Regions from separate parts of the Homo sapiens genome. Here all the other regions are linked to region 1. The links come from fine-mapping of genetic effects on gene expression. A gene starts in region 1. Each other region holds a variant in brackets. All regions are shown on one strand. Distances are between the middles of the regions.

What was found. PIP is the estimated chance that this variant, and not a neighbour inherited with it, causes the effect. A credible set is the group of variants that fine-mapping cannot tell apart.
Region 2: its variant is the best candidate, but not a certain one, in a credible set for the expression of SIDT1 in whole blood (TOPMed, PIP 0.58).
Region 3: its variant is the best candidate, but not a certain one, in a credible set for the expression of SIDT1 in whole blood (TOPMed, PIP 0.80).

What each region holds. Positions count from the first base shown.
Region 1 is chr3:113,530,519-113,536,029 of GRCh38, reverse strand. It overlaps SIDT1 (SID1 transmembrane family member 1), which reads right to left and starts at 3,475. Exons shown (of 25, transcript NM_017699.3): 1 at 2,787-3,475. The coding sequence starts at 3,008. RefSeq lists enhancers at 2,584-2,713, 3,184-3,513, 3,654-3,843, 3,864-4,083 and a silencer at 2,864-2,913.
Region 2 is chr3:113,598,975-113,604,485 of GRCh38, reverse strand. It overlaps SIDT1 (SID1 transmembrane family member 1), which reads right to left. Exons shown (of 25, transcript NM_017699.3): 11 at 2,827-2,898; 12 at 1,336-1,481; 13 at 453-526. Among named protein-coding and RNA genes, the nearest start is that of MIR4446, 6.9 kb to the right of the region's middle. The variant G/A (reference allele first, on the strand shown) is at 2,536.
Region 3 is chr3:113,568,683-113,574,193 of GRCh38, reverse strand. All of the region lies in intron 3 of SIDT1 (SID1 transmembrane family member 1), which reads right to left. Among named protein-coding and RNA genes, the nearest start is that of SIDT1-AS1, 20 kb to the left of the region's middle. The variant A/G (reference allele first, on the strand shown) is at 2,683.

The sequences.
Region 1 (5,511 bases):
TCCTCTATGTTATTCCAAACCTTCAGTAAAATTCTGCTACATCCAACAGCCTTGTGTACCTGCAAGAAGGGGCTGCTGATATCTTATGCAGGATAAGAAGAACTAAGAAGAGAGTAGGAACCGAAGGTAATGGTTTGGACAGACAGATCAAGAAAATGTCTTCTCTGGAGAAAGCAACAGGAATACTGGCTGGTAGGACAGGAGGTTAATTTCCCACAATAAGTGGCTTTTGAGGGCTCCACTACAGCATTTGCATATTAAAGATTGGTCCCAGAAGGCTGTAAGATTTGAGGACATTTGGCTTATATTGAGAATACTGGCACTAAAATAATTGAAATTCTTGTTATCTCCTGTTCCCATGGTTCCCAACTTTGTATTTCTCAGACTAGTAATATTTTAACAAAAATTCTAGGGACTGCTTGGGTCATCAACCTTTTACTGTGTCATTCAAAAATATTTTCAAAACTGTTTCATAAAATAAAGGACATGTTAACACACACAGACAAAATAGGGCATAATAGAACAATTTTTAAAATGTGTTTTTATAAAAACCAAATTTGTTTTATGAAAGAAATTTGTTTTTATGTTTTTATCTGAAATGATCTCACATTTTCCAAACTATTGAATTGAAAACAGTATACATTTCATTTTATTTAGCCTTAGCTAATAACCCTTTATTCACTTATTTGTTCATTTTTGGAAAACACTAAATGTTTTTTATAAGCCTCTCTTTTCTTTAAAAAAAAAAACATTTTGAAAAAACAGGGTATCACTCTGTCCCCAGTGGGAGTACAGTGGCAAGAGCTCAGCTCACTGCAGCCTCAAATTCCTGGGCTCAAGTGATCCTCCTGCCTCCGCCTCCTAAGTAGCTGGGACTACAGGCGCATGTGCCATCACACCCAGCTAATTTTTTAATTTTTTGTAGAGAGAGGGTCTCATTATGTTTTCCAGGCTGGTCTTGAACTCCTGGTCTCAAGCAATCCTCCCACTTTGTCCTCCAGAGTGCTGGGATTACAGGTGTGAGCCATCATGCCTGGCTTATAAACCTCTTATGTGCCATTCACTGTGCTAGGTACTGGAGGGCAGAGATGAACATGACTTTGCCCCTGCCCTCAATATCTCAAGGTTTACTAGGGAAGTCAACCAGGTGATCTCAAGTGCAAAACTCACACAGTACAAGGGGAAAATGTAAAGGCAACAATTCATAAGTAGATGCTCTATCTCTATGCAGAACTGCAAGAAATACCAAAGCCTGATGTCAGGATTTACTTAGCACATGTAATTTGAGTTTTCTTACCAATGATTTAGGGGGAAGCTGAGACTTACTCCAGAGATCATGGAGTTTTCAGACTTTTTTCTGCTCCCAGCCAATCACAGGACTAGGAACACACCTCACGTGCAACATGTCAACCAGTCGATGAGTTCTCCCACGCTAGATAGAAAGAGGCTGGGTATATGGCGTTTGGGAAACAAAAACTGCAGCCTCTCCCTTGTCTACCATGAAATGGCTCTGCATACAGCCACTCTGCTCACTACAGAACATATAACCTGAAGGTTACTGGAGGACAGAGCAGGGTGAGGGCTGTGCTGCCATGGTAACAGTGCCATAGGATTTGGTGCCACACTGGAGATGGGGCACTCAGGGCACTTTCTGGCTACACACAGCTGGAAGATGTCTAGGAGCAGTGTTAGGCACATTGGTCCCCCCTGCTCAATACAAACCACCCTCACTTTGGGAAGTGATGAGGTTTTCTAGTTCCGATCTGGAGTGAGAATCAGACGGAGGCATATCATGGTATCCCAATCATCTAGTTCTGGAATTTCCCTAGAGGGTAGGGGATGCTGGTATAGTAAGGGATACATAAACACATTTATATGGGAAGAAGATCCAGAGGTTGGTACACTGGGGAGTCTCTGTCTCTGTCTCTGTCTCTCTTTCTCTCTTTCTCTCTCTGTCTCCCTCTCTCTCCCCGCCCAGTGCTCCAGAGGTACCACACTAGAGGAAAGAAATGAACTATATGCATCTTCTTACGTTATATAATCGGAGTATATATGTCAAAGGGATAGTCACTGGAACATTTTTCCCTCCTTATCTTCCCTCAACTTTTGTCAAAAATAGGTCTAGAACTTTCACACAATTATCCATCCTTATTTAAAATCAAAACCTGGATTGATCAGCTGATGGCTGCAGTTCTCACGTCTTTGCCCAGGTCTTCTGGCGTCTCTGAAGCACAACGTGTGACAATGGCACAAAAACGCAGGAAGTGACTGTTGAATGCACAGAGGTTCTGCAGCTTCCGTCCATTTTCACACAATTTCCATTTTAGATTCTGAGCAGTTCTCCCTCCCCATGCGCTATGAAATAGAAGGGTCTGGCTGAATCAGCCACTTGAAATTAGGTTTCTTCCCTGCAGGGGATTAGGAACCGAGGTGCGGTTCTTCTTCGCACTCCACACCACACCCCGCAACCCTAGAAATCAGGACTTTCCTGGAGAAAGACCCAGCAGGGACCCAGGACCCGCAGACGGTGCGGGGAACTGGTGCCTCTGCAAAGCCCAGCAATGCCCTTGACCAGGCCAGGAGAGGCGCGAGGCGAAGCAGAGTTGTCCCCGAGGCGTGTTGAGGCAGCTAGGGCAGGGCAGCGATTGCTTCGGAGGAGAAAGGGAAAGAAAGTCCCCTGGTCCCCGAAGTCTCCCAAGGTCAATTCCCAGGGGACTCCAAAGCAGCGACGGGGCTCTGAGATCTGGCAAGTTCTAGGAGTCGAGCGAGGGGAGCGAGTGTCTTACCTGGTCGGGCTGGCTGGTGTAGTTGAAAGAGTAGATGTTCTCGGTGCTGAGGTTCACCACCCCGCTGTAGACATGATCGAAATCGGCGCCCCTGGCAGCGTCGAAGGGGTCGCGGCGCGGTGCCGGGGGCTGCCTGGGGGATTTCGCCGGGTGCCCGGGCGACGCCGCCAGCAGGAGCCAGGGCAGCGCGCAGAGCAGCGCGAGCCGCAGGCAGCCGCGCATGGTGGGCACCGCGCCCGGGCTCGAAAGCGGAGCCACCCTGGGGAGGGGGCGAGCGCAGAGAGGGTCCTTCCAAAGCCCGGTGCAGGGCCAGGCGTCCGCTTCAGAGCCGAGCGGGTGATGCCTGGCGAACCCAGCCGGCCAGGGCTGGCAGCGTGCTGACGAAGGGCCGATCAAATACTGATGCTGCCGCCTGGGGTCTCCACTGGAGGTCACGGGTGGAGAGTAGGGCGGACTGGAGAAGTGGAGATGTGGGGCTGCTGATTTTCCTCCGGCTTCTAAGTCCCCCGTTTCTCATCGCCGAGAATCCCCCCACTTACCCAGCCAGAATTTAGACCGATCTCTTCTCCCTCAACCTCAATAACAGCAATAATAAAAAGGCATTGGAGTCATTAAAAAGAAATACCCGCTAGTCTCGAAAAGTCAACCTGACGCCACATCGAGGAGGAAATTCGGTCTGTTTCAAATACGTGTGCACCCTGGCTGCAGGAGAAGAAATAGAAAGCAAAAGAGCCCGTCCCCCAAGAGGGTGCGCGAGTTCGCTTTCCCAGGCTGCTACCTGCAGAGAACTCTTGCCTGTCTGAACGATAATTACTCTCTATTCTCCCCTCTCTAATAGAACCTCTCCTCAGACACCTGTTTTATTTCTTTATTACCTCCTACTCTCCATGGAGAGTCTCACGTCATCACGTTCTCTCCCTCACCATATGTGTATGTATGTAAATATGTACAGTTAAAAAAAAAAAGATATGGTAAAGAGAACAATTTCCAGCACTGCCTGAAGTCTGGTCCCGGAAGTTGTCAAAAAACGACTCAGACTAACTAGATTTATGCAGAAGGCATTTCTTTCCACCCCAGCCTCTTACCTACTTTACCATTGCAATGACTTCTTCCAGATTCTGAGAGAAACCCCAGGATTGTTTTTTTAAAGGCAGAAACCACAGCCTATCGTAAAAAGGAAATACTTTTCTGATAAAAATTAGGGGATTAGATTTAAAGAGTTAAAGAGGCAGGTAAGGAGCAGGGTGAGAATGGGGCCATCAGAAGACCTTGCAGAACATTGAACAATCACAATTTACGTGTGGAAGAGAACTCACTGTTTTATTTCAGCTTCATTACTGTATACTATAAAAGAATGTAATTGTGTTCAACCTGAAGGACCATTTAAAAAGAAGTCATTAAGAAGGAAAAGATCTTTTTCAAAAATTTAAGATTACAGATTAAAATCCTAGTCCTTGCCATCTTTAAAGAGATAGATTTGTTTTTGTTTTTACCTTGTCTAATTCCTTTAATTTCTTAAAACATCAAGAATGAATGCAATACATTTGTTGTAAAGTTTTCTGTGAAATCAGAAAACAATGCTGATGGAAGATTAAGTTAGTAGACTCCTTATTAGGACAATTTTCAGTTTTAAAGTTTTGAATGTTCTTGGCCAGGTGCAGTGGCTCATGCCTGTAATCCCAGCACTTTGGGAGGCTGAAGTGGGAGGTGGGCTAGCTTGAGGCCATGTGTTCATGACAAGTCTGGGCAACATGATGAAACCCCATCTCTACAAAAAATACAAAAATAGCTGGGCGTGGTGGTGCATGCCTGTCGTCCTAGCTACTTGGGAGTTGAGTTGGGAGGACTGCTTGAGTCCGGGAGGTCGAGGCTGCAATGAGCCGTGAACACCCCACTGCACCCCAGCTTGGATGACAGAGCAGGACCCTATCTCAAAAGGAAGAAAGGAAGGAAGGAAGAAGGAAGGAAGAAAGGAAGGAAGGAAGGAAGGAAGGAAAGAAAGAAATTTCTTGAAAATATATGGGTATATGGGCAAAAATACTAATTCAAAGGAGAGTCTGGGGGTAAAACTTCAAATAGAACTCACTGTTTTTGAGGAGCATAACGAAATAATTTCATCCAGAATTTGAATGACTTTAAACTGTTGTATTCAAAATATCTGTGCCTCTTTTCAAAGTTCAACAACATTTCATAAACTTGAAATCTACGAAGGTCCTGGAGGTTAGCTGGTGTGACCAGTTAAAGGAGTCTCTAGGATTATGGAGTTCTATTATGGCGTTCTTTTTAAACACTATAAGAGATGAGGAACTGGTTCTTTCACAAGTCAACACCTTCTTTTGGGGGCAAGTGTCTCATTATTAGAAAGACATTTCATATTCTTAGTTGAAATCTGCCTGTCTTCTACTCACTTGTACTAGTTCTGCCCTCTGGAGTCATAGGAATAAACCTAATACTTCTTCCACATGACAGACCTGTGGGTATTTAAATGGTGCTATGACCCTTCCTTCAAGATTTTATCTCAACTTTACGCAACTAAATTGGAAGCAAATGGAACAGATCCTTCATCATAGCATGAAACCCAAAATATTTATTTTAAAGCCATTTGTATGGATTATCTATACCTAACAATTTGAGTTATATATTACAAGTCACTCTGTAATATTATCTAATCCTTATTCTAGCCAAAAGTCATTCAGTGACCTCAAGTAATTAACCTCTCAGGATC
Region 2 (5,511 bases), 68 kb before region 1:
CTATCTCTTTAGGCTGCTGTTAGATTAAACATCAGAGTGTAAGTAATGAGTGACGGATCACGTGAAAGGGTGTGGTTTCCAAACTGATGGTCCCACTATGAAATTTCATGTGGCCCCATTGTCCCTTATTTCCTTCTAAGATCTGCATGCAAGTAAAAGGGCATCCTCCAGGAGAAAATAAGGGGAGGAGCTGTCACAAGAGTAGAATACTCAGCTTGGGGGTTTCTGAGGGGAGAGAAGATTTCTTGCAAGGCAGCTCAGCCTCTTGGCTGGGAGGGAGGCTGTGTCCATGTGTGTGGCCATTGCAGGTCTACTGATAGTTGGCTGGTAACATCATTCCCTATGCCTGTGCCTCATTAAACACTAAAACCTTGTGCCTAAGTGGTTGTGGCTCTGACTAAGAAAACTATGTTTATTTAAGGGAACCATGGTCCTACTGGTCATCTACTTACCAAAAATAAATTTTATATTTTTTGCTGACAATTCTCCGGTCCTTCCTGGACAAATCTGACAGGTAAAGGAACATCTGGAATGCCAAATAAAAAGAGAATGCAAAACTGTACTCAGCTCTTTATGCATGAGATACAAAGGCAAACATAACAAATGTCTCAATTTAAATTAAAATTGTTAAAATTATTCAAGCGATACAATTATTCAAATTTACTAAATTTGATTAAGTAAATCAAATTTACTTGATTAAAATTATTTAAGACTTTTCTTTTAATGTTGTTTTTCCCATGATACCTTAATAAAAACCCTAGTATTTTCCTTGGAATATTAAGGATTGGCTGATGTGGGCAACTTATTGGGAGTCTTGAGTGCTTCTTACATGTCAAGAATTGATTTCCCAGCTTTCAGAGCTGTCCACTGTGTGGTTCTTGAACTACATAGGGCTGAAACTGTACGTTTCCCCTTCATATCTTTTGCTGGATATGACAGAAAATAATAATCACAAGCCAGAAACAAATTAGCTTTCCTTTTGAAAGATGATATGCACAGAACCGGGGAGCTTTCCCCAGTACACCCCTCAAATGAATCTTTTCTTTAATCTGGTTGGATCCCTTCCTTCTTTATTGCCTACAGTCATTCACTTCAGACCTTAAGAGTGTTTTAATGCCCTGTGCTCTTTAATGTGCTCACTTTCTTCCGCGAGAAAAAAAAGTGCGAATTAACAGAGTATTGCTTTTAGTCTGTAGGTACATTTGATTTAAGTCTTCTGGGAAATTTGGGTTTCCCTGAAGGAAACAAAATAAAGGAAACTGAGGTATTGCTGAAGTTTATTCTACTGCCAAACTTTCTGCCCTCTCAAAGAGTACGGCGAGGCAGAGTGGGTACCTTGGTCCGGATGATGTTTTTATCACTCTCAATGTCTGGCATGGTGTCGAAGTCGCTCTCCTCCACGGAGCTGTCTGTGTCTGACTGGCCCGGTGGCCCACCATCGGAGGAGGACATCTGCCTTCCAGGACTGGAGCTTGACTCATCTGAAACAGAGACAACTCATCTGCCATCAAAAGCCGTGGAGAGCCTACGGAGCCCATTCGTCTCTGCAAAAAGCACAGTGCAGACTCATTCTAGGAAATGCTGTGTTGATCCAAATGAACTTCTCATTCACAAGACCTGTTCTTTCTCTCTATTCCTTCTCAATGGACTTTTATTTTTCCTCTTCTCCTGTTTTTATATTTAACTTGGCTATCTTCAGGACTGAACACATATTAGAATCTAAGGGCATCTGCTCTGTTAACTATTTGGATACAAAAATAATATTATACTTCTATTTCATGTTTCATATGTTAAAATATGAACATAAATATATACAAATACACATGCACATCGCTATGTATAGCATCTATTGCATATATGTGTGAGCCCACACATATCTAACAGCTATACATTTCTCATGGGTAAAGTATTTGTACACAGAAATCACCCACATGCTGTATCTATGATTATATAATGAAAACAACATTCTCAGGAAGAAGAATCCTTCTGTTCCCATGAATGTTTCCCAGAGCAGATGGAGATTTATGCAGCTTGATGGGCACATGAGCTGAGCTTACCTTCCGCTTTATTTCTTCTGTTCAGATGGTTTCTTAAAAATCCTGTTCTAACAGAACTAAAAATAAGTAGTCTGCACTGAGCCCACATGCTTCTCAAAGTTACAGAATGATAGGGCAGGAATACAGGATTCCCAGTCCCTCTACACTGACATTTTAAAGAGCACCATTCATAGGTCCACAAGCAATATGGAAGGGCAGGCAGCTCAATGAGCTTCTACTCTAACAAGACAGGTCTAGGATTCCATTCTTTTCAGCCCACTTAAGGAACACTGGGGTTTGCCATGTGAACGACTGGGTGGCAGTGAGCAGGTTCAATTATGAAGTCAGCCAAAATGAAGGATTGGTAGGCTACAGCCATGTTCACCTGCAGCACTGCCTCAGTCTTCTGATCGCCCCTTACTCCACTGAAACCTGAGAATGAAACAACTGGTCAATTGATGTCAGGCTCCCTGGGACACATCTTTCATGCCCTAAACCC[G/A]GGCTGGATATGAAAAAGTCCCTAGGGGGCCTTAGTATTAGATGGCAAACATTGAAGGAATTCTGCCCAAGTGGGGCTAGCAGATCCAAGAAACAGAACAACAGAACTGGAGAAAGTTAGAGCTGGGAGGAAGCTTCCAAATCTCCAAGCAACTCATCTTACAAATAAAAGACAATCTCATAGGATAGCTGCTTTGCCCACATTCCCAGTTATTAGTGGCTGGAATGCCTTTCTATCATATTCTCTGCAGAATTAGGAAACACTTTCATGAACAGACCTGGTAGGACATACCTATTGTCCCATAATTGCTCCCTTCGGGTGTGCTGGCAGCAATGGGATGAGATGCCACCATATTTCCAGAGCCTGTTAAAAAAAGTGAAGAGGCAAACACTTTATGTCCAGTTGCTAAAACAAAACAACACTATTCTAAGTAGCTTGAATCATCAGGGCACATTATTTTAGGTTTGATTTTCTTTTTACACTAATACAGGAGTCACCAAAACTATGACCCATCTGCCAAATCTAGCCTGCCACCTGTTTCTGTATGGCTCTTCAACTAAGATTAGTTTTCAAACCTTTAAATGACTGGGGAAAAAATCCAAAGAAGAATAATGTTTCATGACAGGTAAAAATGATACGAAATTCAAATTTCAGTATTTATGTATAAGTTCTACTGAAACACAGCCATCATTTCCATTGGTGGACAATAAAAATACTCAGTTTTGTAAGCCAGCTTTGTAGGTTTTTAGCATGTTTTAAATTTTTTATGTGTCCATTAATTTCCCCCATAAAGAAAAATAATTAAAGTGTAAACTCAAAACCTTTAGCCAGGTTTTGGACTTAAACTTTAATTATAAGGACTAATGCAATGGCCTTGGAGATCCAATTTCTTTTCTTCTTTGGTGGTTTAGCCAAGAGCTGGCTCAGCTGGACAGCAAGGCTTCTGGCTAACGCAGCATTTTTGGCAGCCTAAGCTGTTCCCAGGGCCCTTAGCACACAGATCTTGGCCTTCAAAATGCAGACTTTGGCCCTCAGAATGCATGCTCCCTGGCACTGTTACTAGGCTTGGAGATCCCCTCATAAATTTCTTCTTATTTAGGGAAATTAGGTGTTCCCTGGCCTTTCTTGGGCTGACCCATAAGTATGTAACATGTCATCAATACCATCTATGCTTTTCAACCAACTTCAAATCAAAGAAACAGGTTACCTTCAGACTGTTAAGTATGAGAGATCAAATCTTTCGAGCACAGTAACAGTGCCATGTGAAGATGTTGTGTGCAATTTGCCTGACTCTTTTTGACTTAGAACAGAATTGGCCATAGTTACAGCATAGAGCTTTGCTGCTGCAGCTGCTACTGCTGCTGCTACCAGTACTACCTCTATTACTACTGACTGATGTTTATTGCAGACTTACTGTGTAGGACAGTCTTTTAAATTCTTTCCAGGAATTTAGTCTTTTAAATTTTCAACAACCCTAGGAGGTTGATAATATTATTATCACCATTTTAAAGATGATAAAAGGGAGATGCTGAGAGATCATGTAATTTGCCTGGTCACTCTGAGAGTGGATGGATAGTGTTTCATTGTATTGGTCTCGGTGAGAACTTATTTTTTTTTTATGAAAAATTATTATTATTTCTTGGGACAGGGTCTCACTTTGTCACCCAGGCTGGAGTGCAGTAGTACGATCTCGGCTCACTGCAACCTCCACCTCCCGGGTTCAAGCGATTCTCCTGCCTCGGCCTCCTGAGTAGCTGGGACTACAGGTGCACATCACCACAACTGGCTAATTTTTGTATTTTTAGTAGAGACAGGGTTTCACCATGTTGGCCAGGCTGGTCTTGAACTCCCCACCTCAAGTGATCAGCTTGCCTTGGCCTCTCAAAGTGCTGGGATTACAGGCGTGAGCCACCATGCTTGGCCTAAAAAATGATTTTTAATTGTATATATTAAGATGTACAACATGATGTTTTGATATTACGTGCACATAGTGAAATGATTGCTATAGCTAAGCAAATTAACATATCCATCACTTTCCATAGTTCCCTCTTTTTTGTTGTTATAAGAGCACCTAAAATCTACTCTCTTCACAAATTTTCAACATAGAATGCAATATTATTAACTATATATATTCTTCCTACTGTATACTAGACTTATTCATCCTACCTGCCTGCAGATTTGTACCTTTTGACTTACAGCTCCTAATTTCCTCCCACTCCCTGTCCCTGATATTCACTGTTCTACTCCTTATTTCTATGTATTTTACTTTTTAAAAGATTTCACATATAAGAGAGACCATGCAGTACTTTGCTTTCTGTGTCTGGTGTATTCCACTTAGCATAACATCCTCCATGTTTATCCATGGAAGGCATATTGTTGCAAATGGCAGCATATCCTGCTTAAAGGCTGAATAACCTTCTGTTGTATTAGACAAAACTTATCTTTTTAACTGAAAAGACAGGAATTTTCCTTCAAACAAGAACAATTGGTAGTAAATATGTTACTTTCATATAGTGCTCAAGAATACCTTTCTAAAGAGACAAAGAGGTTGAGGCTCATTTGCATCTCCACTGTAATAAACTCACATTTTAAAAAAGCACAGCTTTTGCTTTTTAGATTGGCAGCTGCTGCCTGCCAATGATTACCCACTGGCGTGGGTCATCCTGCATCTTCTTTCTGTTTAGTTTATTGCAGGGAGTCTCATGGAACCCCTGGGTTGCTCTTATTCCTAGATGATGTTGTAGGTCTTTTACATTCCCCTCAGTATCTTTCACATTTTTCTCTTTTCAAGCTCCCTATTTTATTTTATTTATTTATTTCTTGAGACTGGGTCTCACTCTGTTGCCCAGACTGGAGTGCAGTGGCACAATCATGGCGCACTGTAGCCTCAACCACCGGGTTCAGGCGATCCTCCTGCCTCAGCCTCTTGAGTAGCTGTGACCACAGGGTCATGCCACCACACCTGGCTAATTTTTC
Region 3 (5,511 bases), 38 kb before region 1:
GCATCTACAAATATCCAACTCTCCTATGAATTTAATCTGCCTTTCTACCTCTTTGTTTATAAATATATTCTAGTCTCAACCATTTTCAAAACAAATAACAAACACCCCACCCAAATGCCTCCCTTTTCCCTGGATCGCCATCCTTTAATGTCATCCTATGTCCTTCCTCTCTTCACAAACCAGCTGCTTCTAGGAGTATTCCATGTTTATCTCTCTTTCATTCTTTCCTCCACCCACTGCTATCAGGATTCTTTCTCCACCACGCCCTTGAAATTTCCTTTGCTAAGGGTAAGAGTCACCTCCTGTCTTAGCCTATTCAGGCAGCTATAACAAAAATACTGTCAACTCGGTGACTTATAAAGAATGGAAATCTATTATTTCTTACAGTTTTACAGGCTAGCAGGTTCAAGATCAAGGTGTCTGATGAGAGCCTGCTTCCTCATAGATGGTGCCTTCTCACTGCATCCTCATGTGGTGTAAAGGACAGAGGGCCTTTCTGGGGACTCTTTCATAAAGGTATTAATCCCATTCACAAGGGCTCCACTCTCACGACCTAATCATCTCCCAAAGGCCCCACCTCCAAGTACCATCACTGTGGAGATTTCAATATGAATTTTGGGGAAAGTAAACATTGAGACCATAGCACTATCTAATCGCTAAATCCAGTGACTTAACCCCCAGGGATTTCTCCCACACCTCTGGCTGTGTCTACTCAGCCCCTTATGATAGCTTCAGTTTCTCAGATCATCCCTTAAATGAGAATGTTACCCACAGCCTTGTTCTTGATCAACTCGTTTTACAATGTGTATCCAGCTGCTGTAAATACCACAATAATGCCAGTGAATCTCAAGTCCCTGTGTCCAGCCCAGGGCCATCTCCTGAGCCCCAGTCACAGAATAGTGATCCCCTGCTGGGCTTCTGCACTTGACCATCCCTTGAACACCTCAAACTCCACATGATAAAAGGGAATGTGCTGTCACTTCCCTGATCCTGACCTACTATGTCCCTTTGTCAGTAAACCTCACCAGACTTCTGACATCACTGTAGGAGTCATGTTGGACTACCCCCTTTCTATCGCTTTCCACATTTGATTAATCACCAGGTCCTACTCATTCTATTAGTGTAAAAGTAACCTGCCACCACCTGGAGCACCATGTTTGCTCAGTACAGCATCATTAAGAGAGAAAAAAAAAAAAAGGAATGTAAATCTTTATTGTAGTCTCCTCCAAAATACCAAAGGTAATTATATAGTATGACACATAGCAAAATGGTCTAAAATTCTCTTATCCACCCATTTCTTCAAAAAATCTATTACTTTTCACAGCATAGTAGCTGAGCTATCTCACTCACACACTCTCTCCTCTTAAAACAGACTCAAGATCCCTACTTAGAAGGCTAGAGGAGGGCTGAAGGCTGCAAGTATTCATGGAGGACTATAAATTTTATTCTGCCACATATATTTGCTGAATTATGAATTATCTCCATGTGTACTATTTGACTCGTTTTCTCCCTTACAACCTTGTTGCTGCCATACACATTCAAGTTCTAATCATTTTTCTTTCTTCTCCATTCAGATAACTTTTCATTTGCCTGTTTGTCCCTCATCTTTCATCTCTGTAATTCCTCTTCCACACTGCCACTCATGTCATCTCTAGAAATCAGATCTCTGAATGCTATCCTGTTGCTCACAATCCTTTAATGGCTCCCATAATCTGAAAGACGAAGTTCTACTCCATAGTCTAGCATCCAACATCTTAAAGATCAAAGTTGGGCACTGCCTGTTTCTCCAGCCCTATCTCCTGTAACCCTGTCTTGCCCAGGCATCATGTGGACCAGGCTTCTTGATGTGTTCCTGAAGACTGCACTAGTCTGCCTAACTGTAACTCAGAGCTCTCCCCTAAGTGTCATGTTAGTATACATCCATCACTTTGCCAGATATCTGTATTTCAAACCCAACCTGTCCCAAAGTGAAGTTATCATCTGTTCTTTTTCTTATCAAAATTCTCATTTTCTCTTAGTGGCCCCACCATCTACAAGCTACACTGGCATTATTGACTCTCTCTTTTCTTTTTCCCCTCATATCTAATAAAATTTCAGCAATTTCACCTCTCCTAATATTTCAATTCACCTCCTCATTATTTATCTTGACTACTGCATCAGCCTTCTAACTTCTCTGCATCCTGTTTTGTCCTCTTCAAATCCATTCTCCACACAACTATCACAATATAGACAACTGTTTAATTTTTTTTGTGTGTGTGTGAGACGGAGTCTTGCTCTATGGCCCAGGCTGGAGTACAGTGGTGCAATCTCAGCTCACTGAAACCTCTGCCTCCTGGGTTCAAGTGATTCTCCTGCCTCAGCCCCCCAGGTAGCTGGGATTACAGGTGTGCACCACCATGCCCAGCTAGTTTTTGAATTTTTTAGTAGAGACGGAGTTTCACCATATTGGCCAGGTTTGTCTTGAACTCCTGACCTCAGGTGATCTGCCCGCCTTGGTCTCCCAAAGTGCTGGGATTACAGACGTTTAAATTTCCTAATGCCCCTTCTTAAGATCCTCCTATGCCATGATCACAGGCTTGCCTGTTTCTGTAGCCATCTGCTGTTGCCTGCCTGCAATTTCACACTCTAGCAATACTAAACACCTGGGCACTGGAGTGTAGAAAAAGAGTAGTGGCACAGTTT[A/G]TGTGTGTGTGTGTGTGTGTGTGTGCAGAGGATAGGTAGATGGCACCAAGCAATGCTTTAAAGTAGAGTTGTTTCAATTTTAAAGGAATTTTGCAGAGATGGGGTCTCATTTTGTTGCTCAGCCTAGAGTGCAGTGGCACAATCATGGCTCACAGCAGCACAAACTCCTGGGCTCAATCAGTCCTCTTGCCTCAACCTCCTGAGTAACTGGATCTACAGGCACACACCATCATGTCTGGCTAATTTTTTTGGTTTTTATTTTTTTAGAGACTATGTTGCCTAGGCCAGTCTTGAACTCCTGGCCTTAAGTCATCCTCCTGCCTCAGCCTCCTGAGTAGCTGGAATTACAGGCGGGAGCCACTGTGCTCTGCTAGTAAAGTTGGATTTAAATAAATGTTTCATGGAATTGAGAGACATATTTAGAGAAACACAAACAATTGGGAGGACAGTTTTAACTAGAAAGTAGAAATAGTTCATTATGGCGAGAAGAGCGCAGAACTGGGAGTCAGAAGTACAATTTAGTCTTGATTTTGCCCTTTCCTAGCTGTGTGAATTTGAACAAGTCACTTAACTTCTCTGGGCATCAGTTTGCTCATCTGTAAAAATGAGGCAGGTGGATTAGATTCCCAAAGATCCTTCAGTTCTTAAAATGTATGATTCTAGGGGAAAAAAGTTCCCAAAATGTGTTCCATATACATTATAGGCTGCCACTCAAAAACATACAATAGAAACTTCAATCTTAGAGATTTCGAATTACTTCTTCAGTGTTTCTCTCAATGCCTGAGCCCAGTTCTCATCACAATCCTCAGCTCTTCCTCATTACCATCATCCTCTGGTTCCAGGTTACCAGCAAGGCTGGTGTGTAAATAGTGATTTTGAAATGCTCTTAAAGTCTGGTTGCTGAGGCTAAGTCATATTATGAGGTAAAAACAGAAAGCAACATGAGGGAATAGATTTGCAGTTTCACCAGCGTGCAAATAATTCATTAACACTCGCTACAGTTGTGACCTTATGACTTTATTTTCACAGAATTCAGTTCTCAAAAGGTTCTAATAACCTTACAGAAGACCATTCCTACAATTCAAATATGCTACCACCAAGTGACACTGCCACTGCTACCAGGTGACACTTGATTGATTGATTAAAGACAGAGATCAGTTGATAAAGGCAAGGCTTCTCTGCAGTTCAAACTGCACTCTGTGCAAGTACTGTAACACGTTATCACTCCCATCAAATGTGTAACTCCCATCAAATGTGTATTCCCATATGGATAAATATCACAAGTAGATTTTTAAATTATTAAATTAGGCCAGGCACAGTTGCTCATGCCTGTAATACCAGCACTTTGGGAGGCCGAGGCGGGTGGATCGCTTGAGCCCAGGGGTTCGAGACCAGTCTGGGCAACATGGTCAAATCCGTCTCTACTAAAAATACAAAAATTAGCCGGGCATGGTGGCACACACCTGTAATCCCAGCTACTTGGGAGGCTGAGGCACAAGAATCGCTTGAACCCAGGAGGTGGAGGTTGCAGTGAACCAAGATCATGCCATTGCACTCCAGCCTGGTGATACAGCAAGACTCGGTCTCAAAAAATATATATTAAATTAAACTGAAGCACCATATTTAGAAATCATTTTAGGGTAGTGGTTCGCAACACTGGCTGCATGTTAGAAACACCTGGGGAACTTTAAACACTTTACCAGTGCCCAAACCTCTCCCCTACAGCCTCTGATTTAATTGCTCTGGGTGGATCTTATTCACCAGAGAATCTTTTTCTCCTTGTTCTTGTGGAGGATAGAGTGTCCTTTGCTCTTAAAATTATCATGTCACCTTTTTCAACACCAGGATTAATGGAGGGACTTGAGAAAAAATGCTGTGACTCCTTCTCCATCCTTCTGACCACTCATTCATTTATCTGTCCACGTTTCCGTATGGGTATAACACTATGTCAAGGAGGGTAGAGAGGACCAAGATAAATATTTGAGTCCTATTAGCAACTCTACTGGCTACAGATGTTTTTATAAACTGCCTTAAATTTAAGGAGAACTTTACTGTAGAACCAAACTTTCTGATCAGAAAAATAAGCTGCAAAACAGTGACATATACGATTTTGAAATATTCCGATTTTTTAAAAAATTAACTTTTTAATTGAAATATAACAAACATGTATTATAGAAAAGTGTGCAGTTATAAGCATATATTTGAATAAATTATCGTCAAACATAGCCATGTACTTCTCTCCTCCCCAAAGGTACCACTATTCTGACTTCCAGCATCACAGAATAGTTTTGCCTGCCTTTAAATTTTATATAAATGGAATAAAATAGCATACATTTCTTTTGTCTGGCTTCCTTTTTTTTTTTTTTTTTTTTTGAGAGGGAGTCTCACTCCTTCACCCAGGCTGGAGTGCATTGGCATGATCTCGGCTCACTGCAACCTCCACCTCCCAGGCTCAAGCATTCTCCTGCCTCAGCCTCCGGATTAGCTGGGACAACAGGCGCCTGCCACCATGCCCAGCTAATTTTTTTTTTTTGTATTTCTAGCACAGAGGGGTTTCACCATGTTGGTCAGGCTGGTCTCGCTCTCCTGACCTCAGGTGATCCACCTGCTGTGGCCTCCCAAAGTGCTGGGATCACAGGCGTGAGCCACCGCACCTGGCCTGGCTTCTTTTTCTCAACATTGTGAGATGTATCCATGTTGTTGGGTATAGCAATAGTTTGTTCATTGTTATTTTTGTGTAGTATCCCACTGAATGAATACCACAATGAGATATCTAGGAGTTGGGTATACATCAAAGGAGTGGAATGTAGGCCTTTCAAATTATAGCAA